Linked DNA regions of Homo sapiens: all the other regions are linked to region 1. The links come from fine-mapping of genetic effects on gene expression. A gene starts in region 1. Each other region holds a variant in brackets. All regions are shown on one strand. Distances are between the middles of the regions. Region 1 holds the start of CASP5 (caspase 5). Region 2 overlaps CASP5 (caspase 5). Region 3 overlaps LOC105369468 (a long non-coding RNA gene). Region 4 overlaps LOC105369468 (a long non-coding RNA gene).

Evidence for each region.
Region 2: its variant is fine-mapped to the expression of CASP5 in whole blood (TOPMed, PIP above 0.99).
Region 3: its variant is fine-mapped to the expression of CASP5 in whole blood (TOPMed, PIP 0.94).
Region 4: its variant is fine-mapped to the expression of CASP5 in whole blood (TOPMed, PIP above 0.99).

Annotation. Positions count from the first base shown.
Region 1 is chr11:105,020,266-105,025,795 of GRCh38, forward strand. It overlaps CASP5 (caspase 5), which reads right to left and starts at 2,903. Exons shown (of 10, transcript NM_004347.5): 1 at 2,865-2,903. The coding sequence starts at 2,871. The region is part of intron 1 of LOC124902742 (a long non-coding RNA gene); the gene reads left to right. CASP1 (caspase 1) reads right to left here. Exons shown (of 9, transcript NM_001257118.3): 9 at 5,243-5,530.
Region 2 is chr11:104,989,029-104,994,948 of GRCh38, forward strand. CASP5 (caspase 5) reads right to left here. Exons shown (of 10, transcript NM_004347.5): 10 at 5,215-5,319. Among named protein-coding and RNA genes, the nearest start is that of CASP4, 23 kb to the left of the region's middle. The variant G/A (reference allele first, on the strand shown) is at 2,822.
Region 3 is chr11:105,178,310-105,184,229 of GRCh38, forward strand. All of the region lies in intron 4 of LOC105369468 (a long non-coding RNA gene), which reads right to left. LOC105369469 (a long non-coding RNA gene) reads left to right here. Exons shown (of 5, transcript XR_007062872.1): 3 at 5,061-5,212; 4 at 5,464-5,614. Among named protein-coding and RNA genes, the nearest start is that of CARD18, 42 kb to the left of the region's middle. The variant A/G (reference allele first, on the strand shown) is at 3,427.
Region 4 is chr11:105,222,095-105,228,014 of GRCh38, forward strand. All of the region lies in intron 4 of LOC105369468 (a long non-coding RNA gene), which reads right to left. Among named protein-coding and RNA genes, the nearest start is that of CARD18, 85 kb to the left of the region's middle. The variant G/A (reference allele first, on the strand shown) is at 2,536.

The DNA.
Region 1 (5,530 bases):
TCACCACTCCTATTCAACATAGTGTTGGAAGTTCTGGCCAGGGCGATCAGGCAGGAGAAGAAAATAAAGGGTATTCAATTAGGAAAAGTGGAAGTCAAATTGTCCCTGTTTGCAGACGACATGATTGTATATCTAGAAAACCCCATTGTCTCAGCCCAAAATCTCCTTAAGCTGATAAGCAACTTCAGCAAAGTCTCAGGATACAAAATCAATGTACAAAAATCACAAGCATTCTTATACACCAACAACAGACAAACAGAGAGCCAAATCATGAGTGAACTCCCATTCACAATTGCTTCAAAGAGAATAAAATACCTAGGAATCCAACTTACAAGGGATGTGAAGGACCTCTTCAAGGAGAACTACAAACCACTGCTCAAGGAAATAAAAGAGGGTACAAACAAATGGAAGAACATTCCATGCTCATGGGTAGGAAGAATCAATATCGTGAAAAATGGCCATACTGCCCAAGATAATTTACAGATTCAATGCCATCGCCATCAAGCTACCAATGACTTTCTTCACAGAATTGGAAAAAACTACTTTACAGTTCATATGGAACCAAAAAAGAGCCCGCATTGCCACGTCAATCCTGAGCCAAAAGAACAAAGCTGGAGGCATCACACTACCTGACTTCAAACTATACTACAAAGCTACAGTAACCAAAACAGCATGGTACTGGTACCAACACAGAGATATAGATCAATGGAACAGAACAGAGCCCTCAGAAATAATGCCGCATATCTACAACTATCTGATCTTTGACAAACCTGAGACAAACAAGCAATGCGGAAAGGATTCCCTATTTAATAAATGGTGCTGGGAAAACTGGCTAGCCATATGTAGAAAGCTGAAACTGGATCCCTTCCTTACACCTTATACAAAAATTAATTCAAGATGGATTAAAGACTTAAAAGTTAGACCTAAAACCATAAAAACCCTAGAAGAAAACCTAGACATTACCATTCAGGACATAGGCATGGGCAAGGACTTCATGTCTAAAACACCAAAAGCAATGGCAACAGAAGCCAAAATTGACAAATGGGATCTAATTAAACTAAAGAGCTTCTACACAGCAAAAGAAACTACCGTCAGAGTGAACAGGCAACCTACAAAATGGGAGAAAATTTTCGCAACCTACTCGTCTGACAAAGGGCTAATATCCAGAATCTACAATGAACTCAAACAAATTTACAAGAAAAAAACAAACAACCCCATCAAAAAGTGGGCGAAGGACATGAACAGACACTTCTCAAAAGAAGACATTTATGCAGCCAAAAAACACATGAAAAAGTGCTCACCATCACTGGCCATCAGAGAAATGCAAATCAAAACCACAATGAGATACCATCTCACACGAGTTAGAATGGCAATCATTAAAAAGTCAGGAAACAACAGGTGCTGGAGAGGATGTGGAAAAATAGGAACACTTTTACACTGTTGGTGGGACTGTAAACTAGTTCAACCATTGTGGAAGTCAGTGTGGCGATTCCACAGGGATCTAGAACTAGAAATACCATTTGACCCAGCCATCCCTTTACTGGGTATATACCCAAAGGACTATAAATCATGCTGCTATAAAGACACATGCACACGTATGTTTATTGTGGCATTATTCACAATAGCAAAGACTTGGAACCAACCCAAATGTCCAACAATGATAGACTGGATTAAGAAAATGTGGCACATATACACCATGGAATATTATGCAGCCATAAAAAATGATGAGTTCATGTCCTTTGTAGGGACATGGATGAAATTGGAAATCATCATTCTCAGTAAACTATCACAAGAACAAAAAACCAAACACCGCATATTCTCACTCATAGGTGGGAACTGAACAATGAGAACACATGGACACAGGAAGGGGAACATCACACTCTGGAGCCTGTTGTGGGGTGGGGGGAGGGGGGAGGGATAGCATTGGGAGGTATACCTAATGCTAGATGACGAGTTAGTGGGTGCAGCCCACCAGCATGTCACATGTATACATATGTAACTAACCTGCACATTGTGCACATGTACCCTAAAACTTAAAGTATAATAATAATAAATAAATAAATTAAAGAAAAAAAAAGACTGCAGATTATTCATATATGTTATAAGGTTTAGAAAGCACTGATCTATTCCAGTTTCTTCCTTTTTCCAGTGAGGAGAATGAAACCAAAGACGCAATATGACCTGCTGGAATACGAGCTGCTTAAGTAGCCCAGGACTCCAACTCATAGGCTTTTTTAGCTTCTGTGTATAAGACAGTTGGCCTGAAAGTAGTGTGCAGTATGGACTGAAGGGTTAAGTTTTTGGGAGTGGGAAGACAGTTAAAAGTCTATGATAGCAACCTAAGATATATTACATTATAAGAGTTAGTACCAGGACTACATAGAAAGGTGGAAAAATGCAATCACTTTAAACAGACCAATAAGATAATTCAAGATAAGAGATGACAACACGTTGAGAACACAGAGGCTCTCAGATCTGATTGTGGGGAGAAGGTTCATAGTCTGGAGGATTAATTTGGAATCAAGAGGAAGCAGAGAAGATTTCAGAGTGCATTTAGAAATTTCCGGAGTTTTCTCACACAAATAACTTACTCTGTCTTTCCTTACTCTCTCTTTGATTACCAGAAGCTGAAAGAAAGGAATTAACCTTTTTCTGGCTTGAAAACATCTAGAGAACATACTCTCCTTCAGTGTCTCTACACAGTCTCAGGATTCAAACTACATACCACCAATAAGAGAAAGATTCAGCATGCACACTATTGGTTGATTTCCCTTTTGGTATTTCTGCCTGTCACATAGCAATAAATCAAGATTTTTCTAAGACCTGAGTACCCAGCTGCTAGTCAGAAAAGGGCCCAGACTCACCAGCCATAGCTAACAGCCTCTGTCTCTTTGTACAGCACTGGAAAGTGCCTCAGACTCAGAGATAAAATACACTAGGTACTTCCTTATTGCAGGGAGTGGGGACAAGTGATTACAGATTATGGGAAGTTGCTTCTGGGAACCTATAGTTTCATCATTGGGAAGTGCCCTGTAGTAAGCAAATTGGCTTTCTATTCTTGAACTCTAGATTCTTCCCTGGGGAAAAAAAATGCAAATGACAAAACATTGTTTTGTGGGTTGAAACCTCAGCCTGGTTTTCTTTTTCCTTTTCTCTCTCCATAGCCCCACATCTTCTTTTATTCATCCCTCTCTTCTGATCTGTCAGTTTTTCTACCTCTGCTCGTCTAAAAACACATGTCCTGAATGAGTAAAATCTAACTAGTTTCCTTGCATCTTCCCATAAGAATTAACCAAATATTTTGTATATCTTGGGTTTCTTTATTTTTCATTTCAATTTTTATTTGAGTTTCAGGGGTACATATGCAGGTTTGTTACAAGAGTATATTAGGTGATGCAGAGGTTTGTAGTACAATTTAACCTATTACCTAGGTAGTGAGAATAGCACCCAGTACATAGTTTTTCGGCTCTTGCCTTCTTCCTTCATTCCTCCCTCTGGTATTTCCCTGTGTCTGTTATTCCCGTCTTTATGTCCATGTGTACACAATATTTAGCTAGAACTTACAAGTGAGATTATGTGATATTTGGTTTTCTGTTTCTGCATTAATTTGCTTAGAATAATGGCCTCCAGTTGCATCCATGTTGCTGCAAAGGGCAGGGTTTCATTTTTATGGCTGTGTAACATTCCATAGTAGCAGTGTACCACATTTTTTTAAATCCAATCCACCATTGATGGACACCTGGGTTGATTCTATTATTTTGGCTACAGTGAATAGTGCTGCGACAAACATTTGAAAGCACATGTCTTTTTGATAGAACAGTACATTTTCCTTTGAGGATTCAGTCAGTAATGGGATGCTTGGACAAATGATAGTTCTTTTTTTAGTTATTTGGTAAATCTCCAAACTGCTTTTCAAAAAGATGGATGCATCACATTACTGGACTTCAAGCTATGCTAGAAGTCTACAGTAACCACAACAGCAAGGTATTCGTACAAAAAAAACAGACACAAAGCCCAATGGAACAGAATAGAGAACCCCAAAATAAAGCCACACACCTATAACCAACTGATACTCAACAAAGTCAACAACAACAGCAAAAAGAAACAAGGAAAGGATTGTTTATTCAATAAATGTATTTCTTGTTTAAACTGTGCTGAGGAATCATGATGGAGTCTTCTCCTCCCCATCTCCCTGTCATCTTACGCTTTGATTGGAGACAGTTCTGAAGGAATCCTCTTATCTACTTCCTGGAATGCTGTTCTTCAACTGACTAAAACTGCTTTAACAGTTAATTTTTACTTAGGGTGGCAATTCACTTCTCCTTTTTGATATTCTCTGAGCAAAGACTGATCACAGATGTAGTCTCAGGTTGTAGTAGAGTATGCATGATAACACAGAAGAGATATGCCCAGAGAAACAGTTAATAAAAGGTAAAAAAAAAAAAAAAGAGAGAGAGAGAGAGACTGTAATGTGTTCAACTATGAAGGTGTTTAAGAAGTCAGAAATTAACTCTCATTTAATCTGTTAAATATTAGAAAAAAACATATTTGCAAGTAAGGGGTAGTTCTTCGAATCCTCCCTAAATCTTAACATCCCTGAGTGCATGATTTCACCCCAAACTCGTTTTCTCTGCACCATGCCAGGACTTCACTGTGCACACCATGCATCCTAGAGTTTCTTCAGGGTGTCAGGCACCATCTGCCAAGCGCTTCATTTTGGATGGCTGTCTTATCTTTTCAAGAAGTCTGTGAACTACTGAGGGTTGATTCAAAACTTACTTTGTCTTAAATACTTTTGCAAAGGGTAGAAACATGCAAGTTCATGGATTTGTCAGTAGCAAACTGTGGGATTTGGGAAAAGTTCTTTATCACACTACACTGTCGCTGTCATAACTAGCTGTCTTCCCCCGTCTCTCCTGCTGAGCTCTAAATTATTTGAAGTCAGATACCTGCTGTAACTTATATCACATCCCCAAAGCAGAAAGCCCAGCAAACGATTTTTCTTTTTTTAAAAATGGCACAAAATAAATTTTTGTTCAAGAAAGTAATTAATAACATTGCTATGTTTGTAAGTCTGATTTTCTTTTTTAAATTTTTATATTTTATTTTACTTTAAGTTCTGGGAAAGAAAGGTGCCAATAGCCAGTTTGGGTCTGACAGATTAAGTCAAACACTCTAAATTCCTTAGTCACTCTAAGTTCCAGTCCCTGTTTCTTCAGTGTGGGAGAAAAATGAGGACAAGTTTTCATTTTTCTACCAGATTTATTATTTCAAAAAAGTTTATTATTCAGCAGACATAATTCCAAAAACCTTTACAGAAGGATCTCTTCACTTCCTATGAGAAAAAGAAATAATTAAAAAAAAAAACATAGGAAAGAATTTTGTTAAAGACATGCAAGTTATAAAGTTATACCACCAATGGGAACATACACAATTTTAAAAGGAAAGACCACATGCTATGTTTAAATATACCCTGCTGAGGTGAAGGAGAGAAACATCCAAAAGTGAGGGTTTGTAGTCTTACGGCCAC
Region 2 (5,920 bases), 31 kb before region 1:
AAATGAGTCTAAAATTTATATTGAACTGCAAAAGACCCAGAATAGCCAAAGCTATCCTGAGCAAAAGGAACAAAACTAGAGGAATCACATTACATAATTCCAAATTATACTACAGAACTATAATAATTAAAACAGCATGGTACTGGCATAAAAACAGATGCATAGACCAATGGAACAAAATAGAGAACACAGAAACAAATTTACACACCTACAGTGAGCTCGTTTTTGACAAAGGTGTCAAGAATATACCCTGGGGAAAAGATAGCCTTTTCAATAAATGGTGCTGGGAAAACAGGATATCCATTTGCAGAAGAATGAAACTATAACCTTATCTCTTGCCACATACAAAAACAAAATCAAAACTGATGAAAGATTTAAATCTAAGACCTCAAATTATGAAACTACTAAAATAAAACATTAGGGAAACTATTAGAACATTGGTGTGGGCAAAAATTTTTTGAGTAATACCCCACAAGCACAAGAAACAAAAGCAAAAATGGACAAATAGAATCATATCATGTTAAAAAGCATCTGTGGAATAAAGAAAATAATCAAGGTGAAAGACAACCAACAGCATGGGAGAAAATATTTGCAAACTCTCCAAATGAAAAGGGATTAATAACCAAAATTTATAAGGAGCTGAAACAACTCTATAAGAAAAAAATCTAATGATCTGATTTAAAAATGGGTAAAAGAAAAAAATAAAAATGGGTAGAAGATTTGGATAGATATTTCTCAAAAGAAAACATAAAAACAACAAACAGGCTTATGAAAAGATATTCAGCACCATTGATGATCAGAGAAATGCAAATCAAAACTCCAATGATACATCATCTCACCCCAGTTAAAATGACTTTTATCCAAATGATAGGCAATAAACAGTGCTGGTGAGGATGCAGAGAAAAGGAAACATTCATACACTGTTGGGAATGTAAATTAGTACAACCACTATGAAGAAGAGTTTGGAGCCTTCTCAAAAAAAACTAAAGATAAAGCTACCATATAATCCAGCAATTCCACTTCGGGGTATGTAGCCAGAAGAAAGAAAATCAGTATATTGAAGAGACATCTGCACTCCCATATTTTTTTGCAGCACTGTTTACATCAGCTAAGATTTGGAAGCAGTCTAAGTGTCCATCAACAGATGAATGGATAAAAAAAATATGGTACATATACACAATGCAGTACTATTCAGCCATAAGAAAGACTGAGATTCTGTCATTTGCAACAACATGGATGGAATGGGAGATCATTGCATTAAGCAAAACAAGCCAGCCACAGAAAGACAAACATCACATGTTTTCATGTATTTGTGGAATCTAAAAATAAAAACAATTGAACTTATGAGTATAGAGAGTAGAAAGTTGATTACCAGAAGCTGGAAGGGTAGTGGAGGGTTGCAGGAGGAGGTGGGAATGGTTAATAGGTACAAAATTTATTAGAATGAATGAATAAGACCTAGTAATTGACAGCACCCCAGGTGACTATAGTCAAAATAATTTAATTGCGCATTAAAAAATAACTAAAAGGGGATAATTTGATTATAACACAAAGGATAAATGCTTGAGGGTATAAATATTCTATTTTTTCATGATGTGATTATTATACATTGAATGTCTGTATCAATATATCCCATGTATCTCATAAGTGCATTCATTATTTGTGATAACACCAAAATTAAAAGTTAAAAAGCATCTCATACTTTTCTCTGTTGTTATACATATTCTCCAACTAAAAATGATGGTGGGATTATGGATCAAAAGATTACAAGGCAAAAGATTACAGGGACCATGTCTTTAAAATTAAAACTTTCAAAATATGTGTAAATACTTGCTAATGTGAGTATATGTCAACACTATTTACTTCTTTCACTGGATGTTAGGGAAAAAAGGAACGGGGTGGATCCTTCTGGGTAAAGGAAAATAGTTTCACTAAATTCTTGTCTTTATTTCAGAAAATGCCTGCCCTTCAAGGCAGATAAGAGAGTATTTTTTTAATATATTTTAAGTCTAATTTTCCCCTTTTAAGTCAAATTCTTCTTTTCTCTTTGGGTGACATTACTGATTATTATTATCTCCAATGGAAGATAGCTACATATATGAATGGAGGGAAAGAGAAGTCGTTTGGAAATGAAAGACTAACAGAAAAAGAACTCATATTATTTGAACCCAATTCATTTTTACTTTGATTCCTAGTTACGAATTCTAATTCTATCCAACCTTAGTTTTAAGAGTCTTGGCAAAGAATTGTAACACAGGCAATTTTGGCTTCCTGTATGCCATTCAACCTGCTGTCCATTCTGCAAGCCATCTTTCTTAATTATAAATCTGACTATAAATAACGCCCCTGTTTAATAATATTCTAAAATAATTTACACTGTCCCCAGGACAAATAATTACTCCTATATATTTCATCAGTACATCTAATCTTTTCAAACCATACTTCAACTTTTACATTGCAACCATACAATTTTTTTAATTCCCAAATTTGTCTTATCGTTTTGCACTCTCAATTTTGGTGCGTGATTTTTCCTCCCCCTTATAAAATTCTCTTTTTGATATAACAAATTTATCATAATAAAAGCATGCACACTTACATGCAAACATAAGTCTCTGTGTTCTGTTTTCCTGTCAATTTTTAACACCGTTAATAACTCAAATTAAACTCCTATTTTTCATTGTACCACCACTAGTCTCTAAATTGCTGGGAGTTCTCACTCCACTGTTGCCTGCACAACCCTGGAAGTATAAATTTGGAAGGTGAGGGGACAGAGGCTGACTTAAGGCTGCCAGTGATACTCCCTTCACTATTTCAAAAAGTC[G/A]CATAAGTGATCTCTTTTCTTCTCTCTCCAATTCTGTTCATGTGTCAATTGGGGTATTGTTTATCTATCACACTCACTTGGGTTTTTTTGTTTGTTAAATATACAAAAGACTGATACTTAAATCATTTTTTAATAATAAATATAGGTTTGCCACTAAAATTAAACAATAGAAAAGTTTGTAAAGTGGAAAAGGATTATCCACACTCTTTAATTTGACACAAGGTAACCCCAATTATATGTTTAGCTTGCATCTTTCTGAATTTTTTCTATGCTTTTGTAAAACACTTAATATATTACCGATTTTATTGATTTCCTTAATCATTGGCTTCCTAGTATCCTTGACCTTTGCTTCAACCCTGTAACAGTCTTATGACTTGGTTTTGGCCAACATAATGCAGTAGAAGGATCTCGTGCAATTCCCAGCTCAGGCTTTATGAAGCCTGGTGCTCTTCTTCCTCGTGGACACCTGAACCTAAATGAGGACGAGCCTGAGCCACATTGCTGGCTAATAAGACACATCATGTGGAAAAGAGCCCAGCTGCCCCAGCCAGCCAAGGTCATTCTAGACCAGCCATGTGCTTTCCAAACATATGAGAGATCCCAGCCTTTCAGTAAAGATGCCTACCCCATGCAGAGGTGATCTCAGACACATGGATAATCTCAGCAGAGTCAAGACCTACCTAGCTAACTGGTAACCTTGTGAACAATAGCAAATGCTTATTGTGTTAAACTACTGAGGTTTTGGGTGTTTTGATACCCATAAATAAATAACTGGCAGACACATATTTACCTATACCTTTTTTCCTTATAGCACCAGTATCATATATTATCAACAATTTGCTCCATTTGTTTAATCTTTGCTTCACAACATAGGACAAACCCTTTAAAAATTCAACACATTAAAATTCAATACTACCTGATTTTTAGAAATCTATAAATTATTAAAAGTGTCAATTCAATATAATTTTAAATATTTTGTCAAAGTAATACATTCATGAGACAGTCCATAGTACAGAAAAGAATACAATAAAAATCATATTTCCCAGTACAACTCTCCCCACCTTTAGTCCCACATACTAGAGGTAATTTCCTTCAATTATTTTTGTTTTGTTTTGTTTGGCAGTAACATTTGGAATTCTCAATAATGACTATTATACCTCTGTGTTTCCCGAAATATAGAACATAAACAATGCCATTGACTACCTGATATGAAAAATGAGATGCAGCTCACTTACATAGCCACATATCTGGTCTATTCTACCTAATATTTGATGATGTCATGATGTTCATACTTTTTATTGATTAATTGTGGAACAATAAATAATATATTTAATCCTAATTTCTTCTTTCATCAATGTTGCTCAGTAGTTAAATTTTCTCTATGTAAGTTGATTAATGTTGCCCTCATACCTTCTCACTTTCAATTATATCATTATATTTTTGCAATTTTTATCGTAGTAAAATGCCATAACAAAATTACAAGCTTAACAATTTTAAGTGTACAGCCAAATAGTATTAAAATACATTCATAATTTTGCACAACAATCACCCATCTACCTCCAGAATTCTTTCTATCTTGTAAATCTGAAACTTTATAACCATTAAATGACACTTCATTTTCTCCTGCCCTAGCACCTGGCAATCACCATTCTACTTTCTGTCTCTGTGAATCTGATAATCTAGGTACCTCATATAAGTGTGATCATATTGTATTTTTGTGTGTGTGAATGGCTTATTTTACCTGGCATAATGTCCTCAAAGTTCCTCTATATTTTAGCATATGTCAGAACTTCCCTCCTTTCTATGCTAAATTATATTTTATTATATCTATATACAATATTTTACTTATCCATTTTTCAGTCCATGGATACTTTCGTTGCTTCCACATTTTAGATATCATGAACAACGTTGCCATGAATATGGGTGTATAAGTGTATCTTTGAGACCCTGCTTTCAATTATTTTAGGGATGTACCCAAAGGTGGAGTTTCTGGATCCTATGATAATTCTAGCTTTAATTTTGTGAGGAACTTCCATACTGTTTTCCACAGTGGTGCCATTTGACATTGTCACCAACAGAGCACAGGGTTCCGATTATTCTACATCCCTGCAAACACCTGTTATTTTGTGTTTGTTTGTATGTTTTGATGGGAGTCATTCTAATGGGTATGAGGTGGTATCTTATACTTTTAACACCATCTTCTTTCATTCTATTGTTGGCGGTAAGTCACAGCCAGTCGTCTTCATCAGCCAAGTATAGATGTTACATGAGCCATAAAACTCGAAAATCTAGTTAGTTTCTTCCACTTCATTTTCACTCGTCCACCATTTTCATTGAAATTATATTGTCTATTAGAGAATCTAAAAAGATACAGTTCATACAATCTAAAAAGATACAGTCTTTACTTTTATTGAAATACCAAATATTGACTATGCAAGCTATACTGGTAAATGTGCTCTTTGATGTTGACAGAGGAGGGCTGGGCTGCCTGTGGTTTCCTGCAGAAGAGAGAAAGGACAGAAGGTCAAGATGGTTACCCCTCACTGCCTTCATCCCATCCTTCATTATGATTCTTCTTCCATCTTCTGCCATATGCTTTTGCCATTTCCCTCGACTTCCATCTGTGACCTCTGTGTCTATTTAGTGAAAAGTACTCAGGAATATCTTTGTAAAACCTAAGTTAAATTATGTCACTTCTCTTTTCCAAAGCACTGGAAGGGTTTCCTATCTACTCAGATAATATTTTTTTAAAGATTTACCATGTGATGTTCAAGCACATTGTGATGAGGCTCCTCACTGTTTCTCCTAATTTGTCTCTGTCAGTTCCCTCACTTGCATTCTCTTTTGGTCACACTATCTCATTGTAGTTCTTTTTAAACCTGTTCAGCATATTTCTGCCCCAGGGCATTTGCACTTGTATTCTGTGCTGGAACACCTCTCCTGCATAAGAACCACATGATTCACTCTCCAACTCTGTGCATTCTTTATTCCAATTTCATTATTTCAAGGCAGGTTTTCCTGAATAAAGTACCTATAGTTGAGCATGTATTTTCTACAGTCCCATAACTGTGGCTGAATGTCAGTAATGAGACAGCCAAG
Region 3 (5,920 bases), 160 kb after region 1:
GTCAGGAGATCAAGACCATCCTGGCTAACATGGTGAAACCCCGTCTCTACTAAAAATACAAAAAAAATTAGCCAGGCGTGGTAGCGGGCGCCTGTAGTCCCAGCTACCTGGGAGGCTGAGGCAGGAGAATGGCGTGAACCCGGGAGGCGGAGCTTGCAGTGAGCCAAGACAGAGCCACTGCAGTCCAGCCTGGGCGAAAGAGCGAGACTCTGTCTCAAAAAAAAAAAAAAAAAAAAAACTTGTTCCTTGCTTTCAGTTATGTGAATAAAGTGGATTGAAATGTTGCAATTAGGATTTACTGTGAATAGGTACAATAAACATGTTATGTCATGGTACAATTAGAGAGGAATCACAGTTCTATAGAGATTAGAACCTAAGTTTTTCTTGAAAAGGCAAAAAGCAGACAACTAATCACAATTATCCTTGAATATCCTGTAAATTGTCTATAAAGTTAAATAGCATAGTGTAGCATGTATCTCTCTAGTGATCCTTCTGAATTTCAAGGTTGTCAACCATTACCCTGGACTAAAATTAAGAACAAAAGAAAAGTCTATATGCCGAGGTCTGGGAACTGAAGCCGTTCTGCCTCTAGGGAACTCTCTGGCCTAACCATGGTGCTGATATGAATAAAAGATTTATACTATTAAACATATATAACATAATAAATAATTATTTTTAGGTGAAAAGTGAAAAAGATATTGGATCAACATCTTAGAGACCAATTAAATTTTGAAATCAACCTGATAGTTCCATAAATATATTTTTGATTCTGGACCCAGTCTAAAAATTAAAAGAAGATAAAGAGCTAATTCTTTTCAATGCCTTAAATTTTGTCTTAACCTTTTCTAGAACTGGAGATGCATATTGTTATAGAACAGATTCATTTTTTTATCTCATTCCCCAGCATACGTTAATAAATATTTATTAATATATTATTTTCATACATGTCTAAAACAATATTAATTGTAACGGAATGGAAATTAGCTCTGCATATAAATAAAATTTTCTAGTATAATCTGGATATCTGATCAATATTTTGTCTCTCTACTGATCTCTCTATCTGAAATATATTTTTAAGCTTTTAGCCATAAAATGTTCTATCTGGTTGCACAGGCTTACAAGTATGTTTTTTTTAAAATAACTTTGCCTTAGACACAGTTCTATCATTTCAACCATTTGCTGCACCCATATACATAAGAATATTTTTCTGTTCAGATTAAACTAATAAAACTAAAAAGTGATATAAATACCATATGGTACACTCAGTGACATGCATGGTATTTTTAAAGGAAGGGATATGACACTTTGGGGGATTCCTCTTATGACTTCTAAAGATTATTCTAATGGTGTAGATATAGAATCCTCTGGTCAATTGGATAAATGCCAAGCATTTAAACTCTGCTTGCTAATATTTACATAGCTACCTTTCAGCCAGCGGGCCACTTGCTTTCCTTTTATGTATTGAGAACTAGAGCTGCCCTGTGTTCCCCTGAAATTGCGGAATAAACTTATTAAAATGAATGATAATGCATTCGCTGGTAAATTTCACAAAGTGTGAAGGACACAAATATATGAACAAAATAAAATTATGTATTATTGAGAAATGGTTTATATACTTCCAGAGATATATTGCTCCTGTACTTATGTAGAAGTAGAAATAAAGATTAGCTCTTTAACATATTAATTGATGTTTCCAGTTTGGGACCGTGAAACATCCCAGAAACAGCTGATTGCTTTTTTAAAAAAGTCCTCTGTCTTTGTTCAGCTAGTCCTACAATAGTAACTTACTCATAGTACACATTTATCATATGCTAGCAGTCTGTCCAGAATAACTTCGTTTGAAGAAAAGATAGGTCAAGTGCACATTCCAGGGAATATTTGCAAAATAATATGTATTTTCTTGCAAAATTTTAAACAATTAGCTCTTAAGGTCACTTTCATATCACCCAGCTCTGCTAGTTTTGTTCCCCTTCTAACATATTTTAAAAGTATGCTTGTTTTAAAAGTCAAATAAATAAGATCTATGATAAAAATACAAGATAATAGTTGTGACAAACTATTCTGAAGAAGTAAGTTTCTACTCTAGGTGCGGGCAAGATCCTTCTAATCAAAGAGGAGTTCTGTGTTTATCTCTTTTGAATAATTGTGCTTTAGTTTCTTCATTTATCTATCTATTATTACTGATTGCCTGGAAGTGTACAGAAAGTCATGTCAAGGACTAAAGCAAACTCCTCTCAAAATATTCTTCTTGAATAAACTAGATTTTAATATTAGTTAATATTTATGTGTACGATGTGTTAAGCATTTTAGTATGAGCTTGTTTCATGGCCAAAATAATACTGTGAGAGTATGAGATATCATGTCTTCATTGTAGAAATGGAAAAATTAATCTGTGAGCAAGGTTGTGCAGGTTTATTAAAGTTGAATAACCACCAATTGCTAGAGTGAGAATTAGAAATCAGGATTGTCGGCCGGGCGCGGTGGCTCACGCCTGTAATCCCAGCACTTTGGGAGGCCGAGGCGGGCGGATCACGAGGTCAGGAGATCGAGACCATCCCGGCTAAAACGGTGAAACCCCGTCTCTACTAAAAATACAAAAAATGAGCCGGGCGTAGTGGCGGGCGCCTGTAGTCCCAGCTACTCCGGAGGCTGAAGCAGGAGAATGGCGTGAACCCGGGAGGCGGAGCTTGCAGTGAGCCGAGATCCCGCCACTGCACTCCAGCCTGGGCGACAGAGCGAGACTCCGTCTCAAAAAAAAAAAAAAAAAAAAAAAAAAGAAATCAGGATTGTCTGAGTCCAGAGTCTATGATCTAAACCACTCATAAAGACTGCTTTTTTACACTTATATTTCCTTTCAATGGGTTATTAAAGTGAAAGCTAAGGTCTCACTAAACTATTGCTTAACAGATATTCTATTAAGATAATTCATAGCCTTTTACAAAGACAAGACTAAAATACGATTAGCAGAAAGTCTTCTGAACAACTTGGCCTTGAGCCAACCCAAGTTTCAGAGACAATGTGAATGATTCAGCCGGTGCCTTATAACTGAGATCCAGAAATAGCTCTGAATCCTACAAAGAACTAAAGAAGTATATTCTCTAGCAGACAATGAGCAATAATGAGCTTCTGATGAGCCATATATAAATTTTTAAAATATTACAATATTTTTAGCCTATTTTAAGATATAAACATGTTTCCAAAAATACAGATTGTGCTTCTGTTTATTGATTTATTATCATTTGGTGGTCTATTCAAAGATATTCACAGAGTCAATAAATTCTGATTATTTTTTCAAGTTAAAAAGCAAAGGGATTTTTTAGCAAAAACACAGCCTCCCAGAGTACAGGGAAATGATATTAAGATTACCTAATAGGGTTATTGAGGAAGTATGTGTTACAGAAACATGTACTTCTGCAATTCTTGAGC[A/G]AGAGCTACTGAAGCCAACCAACAAGAAACTCTTGTCAGGAACCTGGCATTATGTGAACTTATCCAGTATGCTTCTTGGAGATCACTTGACTCTAAATATAAGTGACAAACATCACCTTGTGTTTTCTGAGCAGGACGGAAAGGTGCAAGCTAAAATGTGTTGTTATGATGCTAGTTGGCTTTGAAATTACTTTTCAAACAAAGATCGCTTTTGATGAGACCTAATCTGATATTCATGCACAGAAAGTGAAGATATAGCAAGTATACTTAAAGAAAACCATGACTTAGAAAGCAGAACAGTTATATTTATGTTTGTAGAGACTAGGAGAGATAATTATCTTAGAAGTGATTTAAATGCACAGAAAGTAAGTGCCCAATTTCCAAAGAAGAATTAGAGATCTCTAAAGCCTTTATTAGAAAATCCTTGTGTTCTTTTTATGAAATGTCAGTGAAATGAGAGATTGTCATGACGTTAAACCAGAATAAGAATTTAAGGAATGGAGAAAAGCAATGATGAAAAAAAGTATGTATCAACGTTTGATCTGAAATTTTCCTCTTCTTTGGAAAATGTCAAATTTTATGTGCATATTACTTGAGCTGAAATGTAAAATCTTAAGGTTTATGCTGAAGCTTCCTATGACTCTAATGAAAATTTAGAATGTGAATAAGAACTTTTTAGAAATACTTTCTATTGTTATAGCTTCAATAAATTCTAAAAATTGTTTTTACATAACATCCATGGCAAGAAAAAATGTCTATACTAATCATAACATTCTTCTTCCATACTTCAGTATGAGAATACAACCATATTATTTTCTAATATTAAGGTCTATTTATTGATCCTCAGCAGCATTATTACAGTTTTCTAATCTTTATTAAAATCACCCTGTGCACAAAAACTGTTCTGACATTTAACTAATTTCCAAACATCTTAAACCATTCAAATATAGTGTCCATTGAGTATAATTTGACTTTTACAAAACTCAGTTGAAAATTCCTTGTTTGCCTATTTGTTTTACTTGTTTACATTTGTTTTTCTATCATATGCTATATTTTCTCTATTGTGTAAACCAGGGAACAGAGTTTGCAGACTTTGGTTACCACACGCATACCTAGGATCCAACACAATAGCATTTCTGAATTTATACCAGAATCAATACACTAAAAAGTATCTAGTGCACAGTAGGCACTCAATAAATGCTTGTGAAAATGGAAAAATATTTACATATAAATTTAGCAGTTAAGGTAGAAACTTATTAATTAGTGAAGTTCTCAATTCTTCAGATAATTTTGGAAGGGTATTGTCAAGTGATTTATCCTGATTTTATTCTCCTTGCAATCATTTCTCCCTATTCTCCAGTTCTAGGATTCACATAATTTCTCTCTGACACAAATCTGTCCTTTTAGCTCATCACATATTTTTCAAATAAGTTGTAAATCATTTTACTTATTTTATTGTCTGTCAATTTATTTCTCTAGTAGTCTCAATTTTTTTACTTGGCCTCACTGTGCACATACATAACAGCACATTCTCAACCCCTATCCCTGCTTAAAAAAACTGGTTACAGTGTGATTTGGATTTGAAGCAGTGGATAATATACATGCAACCGAAACATTTTTCCTTTTCCTTCTAGCTACAGTAAAGTCAAGGTCTATACACCAAAGATAGAAAAAATGAGAAAAATAAATGGAAAGAATGAAGCAAAAAGAGAGCCATGAAAGATACAAAGAGATGTATTTAGAAAGTAGAAGGATCAAGACACTGTGTGCCTCAGAAAAAAAGAAGGTAAGCAGCAGTCGACTATATTTTTTAATTGAGATTTTCTTATCTAATTGGAATTATCCATGTAAGGAAACGAATCAGGAACTTGGTTGCCAGATGCAGAGAAGTAGATAAGATTTTCCTCTAGCTATATGCTTGTGCTTTTGGCCTGATTAGCAGCGGATTGAATGATGGCCCTCCTCAAAAGGTATGTTCATATTCTAATCCCTGAAAAATGTAAATGTGACCTTGTTTAGAAAAAATCTTCTTTGCAGATATAATTAAGCTAAAGATTTTGAGATGGAATAATTCAGAGGAGGAGAAGATATGAAGCAGAAGAGAAGAATCCCATGTGAAGAAGGGTACAATGATTGAAGTTACACAGGCGCAAGTTGAAAAGGCTGAAGCCATCAGAATGTGGAAGAGGTAAGGAAGGATTCTACCCTACAGCCTTCAAAGGGAGCATGACTTTGCTGACACCTTGATTTTGGACTTCTGGCCTTGAGAACTGTAATATAATAAATTTCTGTTGTTTTAAGCTATCAAGTTTATTGCTATTTGTTAAGAGAGCAGTAGGAAACTAACAGTATGTATATTCCTTCTTTAGTGACAGTTACGAAGTAAAAAAAAAACAAGAGAATATGGAAACTGCTATATACTAATGATTTTTTTCTGCCCATATCCATCTGAAGCAGTTCCTATTTTTGAAGGTTCCTTTCCCTAACACACACA
Region 4 (5,920 bases), 200 kb after region 1:
GTGCCAGTTTTATCATATGCTCAATCTCTATATGATTCTATTTCTGTATTATCTATTCTGTTTCATTGGGTATTAACCTATTACTGGTTGATAGCCTGCTGCTTTTATTATTGTAGCTTTATTATTTATTTAAATATCTGGGAGAGCTAGTCTCTTATATTTAGCCAAAAATATTCTGAAAAAGAAGACTTTTTACAAGATTGTGTTTTGCATTTGAACTCCACAACGACTTTCTCTGATTCTTAAAAATCCTGACATATTTTATTAAATGGTGCTGTCCATTATATTAAAGCTTAAGAACCTGTTCAGCTTGTTTCTGTTTATTTGTATCCTTCCTGTGGATAAATCATATCATATCTTTGTTATAAAGTTGTATTATGCTCTTTTAAAATATACATTAACCTCCCCCATTCTCAGTGTAATAAACACCATTTATTTTACTTAGTATTAAATATATGTGGCTGGCTGAGGAGATCAGTTATCTATCTTTCCCATTCCTGGGCAGTAAATAAGGAAGAAAAATGGGTTTTTGTTTGATACGTAGCAAGTTATTGGTTTGTAACATGCGAATGACGGCTGGTATAAAGATAAGCTTTTAAGTAAATGCATGTGTAACATATATGCATGTTTAAGGGGATTTGAAATCTATGGTAGCCACTCAAAGAGTCTGAGCCCATCTACCCTCGATACTTGGCTTAGTCAGGAGTAAAGAAATCATTGTGATTTTGACTTTATCAAGACTCAAAATTTAGCCTGGCATGATGGCACACAACCATAATACTAGGACTTGGGAGGTTGAGGTGGGAGGATCGCTTGAGCCCAGGAATTCAAGGTCACAGTGAGCTATGATCACACCACTGCCCTCCAGCCTGGACAAGAGAGTAAGAACCCATCTCTTAAGAAAAATAATATACTAACGAAATAAAAATGTATAAGACTCATAAAACCTAGGGGTAATATAAGAGTGAAAAATTAAAAATGAGTAACTCAGAGAGATTATTGTGCCTAAGTACTTGTACTGAAAAAGAGATAACGTACTATTTAAATATATGTATATATATATATACATATACATACATACACACATTACTATATTACAAATGTAACAATATTTTTTGTCATGTAAAACAATGCTGTGGACTCCATTTGGGGCACCTGTTCAGGTTACAACCTTTCCTCTTTTAATTCTCACCATACCCACAGGGAAAATGCAGTTGATAGAACCGTGGTGGAAATCTGACCTAAACTGGGCCAGTAAGAATACCTTCCTAGGACTTCTAAACTTAAGAGTAGAAAGAAAGAAATTTTCTCTGAGTTATTTTATACGTAAAACATGAGCTCATAAGCTCAGGAGCCTCTTTCTACCTGCCACATGAAACACAGAAACAGGTCATGATGGTAGTCTCATAAAGATAAATTGAGTGGAACAGAAGGAGCCAGGAAGCAATGAGGAGAATCCAGGTGGCTTCATAAGTCTCTGAAGTGTAGCTGCCTGATCTTGAGCTCTATGAGACATATCTGAGTTTTTTTTCACTAAGCCCTTCTCTCTCCTTTTATTTGGCTTAAATTAGCTATGATTTGGGATTCAGAGAGTCTTTGAGACACCTAGGAAGTAGTTCAATTAATAGTCCTTCAGATTTGGATGCAAATCTCAAGCCTGTGATTTGGACAAATTGCCTAACTTCTGTAATATTTTTTGTGGGTCTTCAACAGTAAAACTAGGATTAAACCCTACCTCAAAACTGATAAAAAGGACTACAGTGTGTCTTGTGTGTTGAGGTAGGCTCCTACAAACCTTCAGGAGCCAGCTACTAACTTATCAAACATTTCACCAGCTTGTTGTTAATCCTGTTAATAGCTTGAAATTGGCTGTGGTGGGAGTGTTTACAACCACATAAATTGGCTAAAATACATTTTTTTTTTTGTTTTTAAAGGCTGTTCACCAGCACAGAACTAATTATAATAATAGATGTAAAGGGCTTACCCACTACCTGATCCATCATAAACACTCAATAAAGTGATATTATTATTAAAAAATTATTGTGTAGATTCTGAATCAATGAACCTATGCAATCTAATTGTATTATGAGAATATACAACAAGTGTCATTAGCAAATAGAGAAACTATGTTCATCATAGTTTATTCAAACTGCAAAGAAGGGTGTTAGTATGTCTTCCAAGCAGCAGACAACAAGAAGGAATTAAAAATGCATGGACCATATTAGGAAAATTGTCTGGATGACAAAATTGTCAGGAATTCAGGAAGACTGGGTGAGCTATCAGACCAGGGTGCAAAAAGAACTGCATCTCCATGACTGAAGGAGAAAGAGAGAAAGCCTGGGCAGGTGTTTTCAAAATCTTCCCAGCCTGCCAGATCTTCCAAGAAAGGTTTGACAAAGCCAATGGTTGGCACTCAAAGGGCCCCTGCTTTCCCCAGAGTGAGTCTGCCTTAGTATTCTTGCAGCAGTAGGTACTGGCCAGAAGCAGCCTAGGCACGGTCTTCAATTCAAGGCAGGACAAATTGAATTTTGGAAT[G/A]CAGCAGTTGTGGGCTATTGCTGCTGGCTGATACCTCCTGCTCTGGGACATCAGCCAGGCACATTCTCACAGCTGCTGCAAGGAGTAGCAATTTTCAGGTATGTTAGCTTTGCAGATCCTGCAGTTGTTCTCCACTTTAGCGTGCTTAAAAAATGACAGATTATTGGGTCCCTGTCCATTAATTGGTACTTGAAACATGGACCTCAGGTATTTCTGATACCATAAAATAGTGAAAACAAAATAAAAAACATCAAACCCCACATTTTCAATTTTTCTTAAATATACAAGGTTATTGTAATCACCTTCTCTCCTTAGGGGATCATAACATGTATGCCTGTTAAATAATAAGACTGATGGCTAAGAGCCATACAGAAAGACACAAACAAAAACAAAAACCTGGCTCATTATTTGACGTCACTGCATTCTTGGGGCTGAGTGTTCTCCATCTGTGTCTAAACACGTTTATCCCAACTTTATTTTTACAGCCTATATCAAGATAGTATTCCCACTGGCTTAGCTCCTGTCATGCCCCCCTCCCCCCAACAGCTTCTTTCTTTTCAGTGATCTTGTTTTGTTACTTCTTTCATTATTTTGATGTTGACACCATTTATTTTGCCCACATCTCTCTTGCCCAAAGAATTGTTCCTTTGTTTTTTTATTTTAAATTCCATCAACCTATTCAAATTTATAAAAACAAACAAACATCTTGCAATTATCTCCTTAGTGGTCTTTGATTTCAAGATTTTTATTTTCTCTAGTTCATCACACAGAAGGGTGTCCTTAATGTGTAAACTGGATCACCTAAGTTTCTTACTCAATAACTTTCCCTATTTAAAAAAATCAACTCTATGCTGCCATTCTAGACTTCTTATATTCTACTTGATATACATCATCCCACATTTCCTAAAGCATAGCCTATAAGAAATTGTTTATATAATAAGGGTCATTAATGGCTTGTGGTCAAGGAAATTTGTAAAATGATGAGTTGAAGGAAAGTTAACATCTGAATATATTTAAGGCTCCAGATATTTTAATATGCTAATGAGCAAGCAAATATCTAGGAGGGGTATGCTATACCACGTTTCTAGACTAGTGGTCTAAAGAAAATGCTTTTTAAAAAGGCAATATGACTTTATCTTCTGCCATTTCCCACAAGAACCAGATCCTTCAAATGCACCTCCTTGGCACACTCTGACACACTATCATGTCTGAATTTTTGCTAGGCTGTTCCATCATTCTGATTTGTTTTTTCTTTAATATAATATTGATTAGGAACCAGGAGATGAAGTCTGTGAAATGTCATAGGCTCAGTCAGGCTCTCTCCCCTCTTTATATTGCTGGGTTCGGTAACTTTGAGAAGCATTTTGCAAATTGTCAGCCAACAATAACATGAACTTGATTCTTTATTGACCATTTTATTGATAGTCTATGAGCGTTGCCTCTTGATTCTATTACATTTGGCACTTTTTGAATTGGTTCATTGGTTAAATCTTGTCTCCCTTACAAGACTATGCATATTTCAAAAACAGCTTTGTAATTTATTAATGTTCTTTACAGTACTCAGCAGAATGTAATGTGTTATGTATAATGTGGGGTTTGTTGAATTGAAAAGTAGCCAGGAGGGAGAGTCTGGGAAGATTCAGGAGGCAGGAATGGAGCAAAAAAGCTCAGTAGTTAAGAATGAGGGAAATGGATGCAAAGTCTAACTAAGCAGAAAAAGAGAACCTAAACAGAATGACATGTCCAAAGTTTGCAATGGATCACATCAATGTCTTTTTAATGTTGTTACTTGTCCAACTTTACTTTGCATTGCATTGCATTGTGAAATCTTTCACTGTTACAGATATTGTAATTGGCTACTAATTGTAGCCCTTGGAAAATAGGCTTCTGTCTATAATAGCCCAAAATACTTCAAGCCAGCAGAGCCTCCTAAAGTTCCAAAGCCTATCACACTTGAATTTCTCTCAGACTGAGAGACTCTGACTGTACATCCACACAAATACACAGTTTGTGTTTTTAATATATCATAAAAAAGGTACAATCTCTCTCCATTTATAGGAGTAGTGAACTATTGGGCCTGGGGATGTGTAGAGAGTAAAGGGAGACTACTAAGATGAAACAAAGGAGTTTTAAACTGAGAATCTGTATGTGAAAGAAAAAGGCTAACACATACTTGACCAAATGTATTTTGTTTTTGAAGATGGAAACTAGAAATTATTGCAGCTTCAATGTGTTATCCCCATAATAGCTCAGCTGATAGCACCAGCGTCTATGTGATAAGAGCTTCAAAGAAAGGTGAAGCAAATGTCACTTAGAATGACTCGTAAGTGAGGAGTTCTGCAAAACTGACAGTTCTAAAAGCAGTGAAGGGTCAATTTTGTGTACTTTAGCTCACTTGATTCAAGAGGCTAACTCTCCAGTACAGAGGCTGATAGATAACCTTCAAAAGTTTCCTTTGAGAAAAAAACAAACACTGTTTAATTTGTGGACCAGAGTAGACTCTATCTGGAATAAACTCACATGAACTAAGTAAAATGCTGAAGATAGGATGATATTAGGAATATAGTATTTGACAGAAAACTCGGAATTACCCAGTTTCTGTCTTCTTCTAATCACTCATTCCAAAGATACATTTAAATCCATCCATGGGGCACAATCTGTGGTGGAAGAGAGAGAGAATGAATGTGAGTAAGGGCCTGGAGGCCAGCTACAGCTCCTGGGGGCTGTGGGCCATCCTGTCAACCTATTAGCTCTGTTCACAAAGAAAGTGTTTAATGAGCTGGGCTAAACCATTGGCAGAACTCCTTTTGCCTAAGTTGTACATGGTTTGAGCCATCAAAAGTGGGTTGAAAGGCCATTCATTCCTGAGGCCTCACCTTAATTTTGACCTCCACCACTCTCAGCATGTGTTTTTCAGTACAGCTCTATGTATGTTCCTCCTGGTAAGGGAGAGTCTACATTCAGGAAGTATGACCACATCAGTACCACTGACCTCAATCAATAGATGGGAGAACTCCAGACAGTGCTGTAAAGCCCTTTGCTCCAGAGCCTTCCTTGTGCATGAAACAAGGAGGGGAGCAGGGAAAAAGGGCATCACTGATCTCCTTTCCTATGGAGGGCAGCAGTAGATAAACATGAAGTGTGATTTTATTGAAACAGTTCTTAAAATAATCAAGTTATTTTCTTATACAATTACTGTAAACAATTGAAGCAAATTATAACCACCAATTTAAGCTATTTATTTAAAGACTTACCATATTTTTCTATCCATATAAAATAGCCCTGTATATGAATCTCTAAGGTAGCCAATGGTTTTTTTATTATATACAAATTATTTCTTCTATAAAGGGAGAGAGAGAGAGAAGTAAAAGAAGTGGAAAAATAC